Regions from separate parts of the Homo sapiens genome. Here region 1 is linked to region 2. Evidence: fine-mapped expression QTL. Tissue or cell type: blood mononuclear cells. Region 2 holds a variant in brackets; the other region holds the start of a gene. All regions are shown on one strand. Distances are from middle to middle.

Region 1 (2,500 bases), 220 kb after region 2:
AAGACCCTTATGGAACAGGTGCTAAGGAGAGAAGTAGTATCACAGGATGGAAGGCCCCTTCAAAACCAGGTACATTAGCAAGCCCAGAATGTGTAACGGTTATCCTATTTCCCTGCCATGTGCCTCAAAGCAACATGCTCACTTCCACATCCCCATGTCATGAGGCCAGAGGAAGGGGAAGCGAGAATCCCTACACTGGGCCATCCACACGCAGGAGCAGAACAGACACTGTGCTCAGAGTTGCAGGGTCAAAATAACAAACACTGTCCCACAGTCTTAGCCGGTGACATCAAGTAAGGGCAGCGGCAGATCTCTGGATTTGGGGCGCAGTTTGGGGAACGTGGATGCAACCACACGCGTACACACACATATACAGGATTTTACAAACCGGCCCCTATCCCACTGCCTCCCTCCACACTTCACACACCAAGTGCATCCTGCCCACCTCACCGTTTCCATCATCACATTCTTTCTCCAGGAGAGTCAGCCGAGAGATGAGGGGGTCCTAGCGGGGATTCCTGGAAATGTCACCCCCCAACACCTCCGTCCGCCACCCCATCCCCTCTGCTGTACCTTTTACACACACACTCTCACACACTCACTCCTGCCATGACTGTCATCAGGCCCGCCTGCTGCGCCCGAAGCCCGGCATCTCAGCGGGCACCGGACCCCAGGCGTCTCGCTCGCAACGCCGCCTTCCCCCGCCTCGCTAGCTGATGGTTCCAGGCACTGCCTCCTGGATGTCGCCTGCTGCCTCCGCTCCTCCGCACTATTGTTCCAGGCAGCCCCTCTCGCGTCCGGGGGCGCCCTTTGGCGAGGACCCGGGCTCCGTCGGGGGCCGCATCAGCGCCGGGCACCCCTTCTCACCCACCCCTCCCTGGCTGTGGTACCTTGCCTGACAGCTGGGTCCGCGGGCCCGCGGGAGCAGGCGGCGCTAGTGACAGCGCTGGTGCCAAGCCTGGGAATAAAGCTCCGCTCCAGCCGCTGCTGCCTCCAGCGCCACCATCTTCTCCCGCCGCAGCTGCCGCCGCCGCCGCCGCCGCCGGGACCGCAGCCGCCCTCGCCCAGCTCCGGCTCCGCAGCCGCTGCTCGGACCCCTCCGGTCTCGCGGCCCCACCCCCTTTCCCCACCCTCCCTCCCGCCCTCCAGCTAGCTCGCTGGCCCCTCGTGACGCGCGCTGGGGCCGGGCGGGCCTGCGAGGGAGGGCGCGGGGGAGCGCGCGCGCGCACGCCGCCTGCTAGTAGCGCCCCTGCCTCCCTCGCCCACTCGCGTGCGCGCGCGGCCCGCGAGCCCGCGGCGGCGGCGGCGGCACCGCTGATGTCCTCCGTGGGCCGCCGGCTGCAGCGCCCCTGCCCCGGCGCCGGTGGGCGTGCGGCACACCCGCGCCTCTCGCCTTCCCTCGCGTCCGGGTTCCGAAGGGCCCGCCCTGCCTTTCGGAATGGGTTCCACAGCCCCATCCTCTGGCTCCCGGCCGGACGCAAGGAGGGGAAAATGCAGCTGCATCCCCGAGGGGACTGACGGGGGCCTCCACCCTCCTCGGTGGCAACCCAGGTGGTCCCCAGTTTCCTAGCCAGCAGCTGTGGCCAACCTCTGCGCGAAGCAACGGGCCACGCTGCAGGACCACGAAGCCAGGCAGCCGCGTCGACTCCTGCAGGGTGTTCTCTCCGGAGTGACTCCCGAGCTTTCCCGCTTCCCAGGCCCCTTAGATATCGCCTGCGCTTCAAATTCGGAGATTGACGGCGTCTCCGGAATGCGTCGCAGTCCTGCGAGTTCTCCGCCAGGGGGAGAGCCGCGCGGGCTTGGGCCTGAGCGAAGACAGCCGGGCTGCAGCCCTCCAGGGGAACTGCCGAGTCCCGCCGGGGACAGCGGAGAGCCTGCGGATTGTGAAGCCGAGGAAGGCTCGGCTTGGTTTTCCTACCCGCTCCTCAGTTCTGGTTGATCGGAACTTAAGTGTCTTTGAGCCTAGCACAGGCCATCCGCCCTAGATATGGCTCCTAACTCGAGAGGCCACCCTTTGCGGCAGGGACCAGGTGGCAAGTGCTGTGCATTAATGAAAAGCTGTGGGCTAGACAGGCCCCGGGAGGCCTGGGCTCTGGCGCCAGCCCCACCTGTAATTGGCAATGCAATAGCTAAATCATTCCCCCTCTTAGAAACACAGATTTTTCCATAATAATGTTATAATGCACAAAGCCTTGTAGTTTGCAAAGCCCTCTCCGCACATGTATTCTCCAGTAAAATGAAGATAAGCGCTGGTTATCCAGATCCCTTGGGAAATGGATCTTTTACCACACCGTGTTTCCATATTATTTTAAGCACGTCTCTAGAGAAGTCTGGGGGTGTAGCCTAAAGCATTCTGAAAGTCTTGTTTTAGCTTTAAAATTCATATGAATTTTGCATTGTACTTTGTAATTTTTTTTTGCTTTAATAAAACAATAGCTACCTTCTCAAAAAGATTTTAGTAAAATTTAAAATTATATACTAGGAAGATGTCTGCTTGTCC
Region 2 (2,757 bases):
TACCCTGCACCATCTTCACAGATCCCTCTGGACATTCATGTGCATGCAATACTTGTTTACAGTTACCTGAGTCCAGGATTCAACTCCAATTTATACATAAACACAAAGACTTTGTATGGCTCTAATACACATCGAACATTTCAAGAATAATACCGTCTGAATTGAGAGATGATGTTATTTTGCTTCATTCAGTACTTCACCAGGAGGAAACTTCATGACTTTGGAAAATCAACATCAGCGCTGCTGTGATATCTGTGTTGCCGATAAATCACATCCCTATCAACCTGCACGTGTGCTGTCATGCATGGTGATTATGCATGTGCTTGTAGATACATACATATTATTTGGCCCTCAATTTGAAATGTCAACTGGAAAGTTTATGATATCCCACTGCACACTGCGTTCTCCTACATCCAAGCTTAATCAAGTAGGCATAAGCATCTCACTATCTCATTATGCCTTTCAGAATGGTTGCGCCAGAGCATTTATTAATACATATTGTAATATGGTTTTATTTTAGTTTGCTTTCCACTTATCTTTCCTTTATATTATATTTATGGCCACAATTTGATTATTCTGTGAAAGATTTTTCAATAGGGGAGGTTATATTAGCTATGAATTTCATTTCAGGATAGTAATGGGTCATTAATAAGATATTTATTGTAGAAAGGGAGGGTTGGGTCTAACAGAGTTGAGAACTCTGACTGGTCCAACCCTGCATTTTCCAGTTGAGGAGATGGAGGCCCAGAGACACAAAGGAACCTCTCAAATTCACACAGCTTGCAGGAGGTGGCACTGGCTTCTACACTGGGTTTTGATAGCTTTTCCCTGCATTAATTAAGCAACATTATTAATCCAGACAGCCAAGAGCAACTGAGCACTTCTCATGTGGCTATGCTGCAGTAAATGCTATACAAGGTATATGCTATGAAAAGTAAATGCTATACAAGGACCATCACTGAATCTGCATATCGATTCTATGACAGCTATTAGTATGACTGGTCCACAATCCTTCACTTGGAATGCAAGAGGCTCTGCTTCAGAATTCAAAACTTTTCCAATTTTAGAAAGGTAGCAGGGTGCAAATACTGTACATTGTGCCATAACCCCCTGACGGTCTGGGGAAGTACACAGAGCACAGTAACATTTCTGTGGCAAAATCTGTAAGATTCATGGTAAGCTAGACAAATTCTATAAACGGCCTGCCAGCAGGCAAGGCAAGTTTATCAGCCACCTGACTTCAAAAATCCCTTTTGTTTCTCAGAGCTTTCTAGACTTTGGAACTATGGATCTGTATTAGTGTCCCCACTGGGTAGAACAGGATATGGAGGTTGAGGGGTTAAACTGCACACTTCCTGAGAAGGGGCTGGGGGCTGAATCCAGAGCCCATCCTCCTGCCCACCACAC[T/C]GGAAGGCTTCTCTGTGAAATTCTGATGGGCAGAAAAAGCCAAACCAGAAAATCTCTAGAGCGGTGTTTTAAAAACACAATTCTAACCTCCACTGCTCTTTCCCCACCTTTCCTAAAAGCACCTTATTAACAGCAAAATGGGAACTTTCCGTGTGGCTGGCTATGGGAAAAGAAATACTTAACTTTTCTCACTGTTAGAATCTGATGACTTTACAAATCACATCAAGAACTACCACCATCTACCTATTGTAAAACTGGAAGGAGTAAGGCATTGCTTTTGGCATCAGAGAGGTACATGCAGACAAACTGAAAAATATATACCTGGGAATGTGACCAGTCGACTTCCTGATCATCATTAGTGGATGCCCCTGGTGAATACACTGGCTACTGAGATTTATGGACCACTAGCCATGTGCCACACATCAGGCTTTAACTGCAATATCTATGAGAGTGCCACAGCAGCCTGGTGAGGGAGGTACTATCGTCCTGCAGAAGAGGAACTTGAGGCTTAGTGGCTGCACAGCTTGGATGAGGAAGGACTCAAGCTCAGCTTGCCCAATTCTGGAGCCAGCACACTCTGGCCCTGCTCTAGTGAAAGCAAAGGGGTAAGATTCTCAGGTCCACTCTTGCCTACCTCTTGCTTCTCCAATCTTTCCTTTCTTCCCTGATGGATCCAAGGGTACCCCAAGGAGAAGAAACCCCTCCCTATGAGCTCCAGCCAGATGGAGGTAGCAGCGGGGCCTACAGGGATCCTCGATCCCTGTAACTTCATCTTTTCGCTGGCCTGCAGGACACAGGAGGCTTAAAAGTCCAAATTTTCACTCTTTTGGAACTTTCTGAGAACCTCCTAAAACTCATTTTCCCCGTTTGCATGTTGGCCTCAGCTTTACAGGAACAGTAGGGAGAATGGCAGGCAGAGGTATTTCAAGCTCTCTGTTCTCCCAGTGACCTTGTCCTGTGCTGCTTTCTAGAGAACAAGACCAATAAAAGATGGTGACAGTAAGTGTTGGCATCTCCTCCTCTCTGTGCCCACAGCCACGACAGCTCTGGTTCCCCGGAGAAAAAAGCAGGATGGCTGCTGACACCTAACTTCCGAGAGGAAGGCAATTTCTGCAGCTAGACGAATGCTGTACTGGAGAAGAAGGGCCTCTTTGAAGGAACCAAGGCTATCAGACGCCATCTTCTCTTCCCAGATCAGGACTCCGTGCTCCATGTGAGAAACAGAGCCTATTCCTCTGTGTCAGGAGGAAAAATGAGCACAGTCAAAAGCAATGGCCCTCAGGGGGTGGGTGAGTTTTCTGCTATTAAAAATTACTATAGGGCTGTGGCCTCCCCTGGGAGGCGGCTTCT

What was found. PIP is the estimated chance that this variant, and not a neighbour inherited with it, causes the effect.
Region 1: it holds the start of APBA1, and the variant in region 2 is fine-mapped to the expression of APBA1 in blood mononuclear cells (TOPMed, PIP above 0.99).

Annotation. Positions count from the first base shown.
Region 1 is chr9:69,671,263-69,673,762 of GRCh38, forward strand. APBA1 (amyloid beta precursor protein binding family A member 1) reads right to left here and starts at 1,109. Exons shown (of 13, transcript NM_001163.4): 1 at 891-1,109. RefSeq lists silencers at 877-956, 1,137-1,186.
Region 2 is chr9:69,452,609-69,455,365 of GRCh38, forward strand. The region is part of intron 8 of APBA1 (amyloid beta precursor protein binding family A member 1); the gene reads right to left. Among named protein-coding and RNA genes, the nearest start is that of ENTREP1, 130 kb to the left of the region's middle. The variant T/C (reference allele first, on the strand shown) is at 1,408.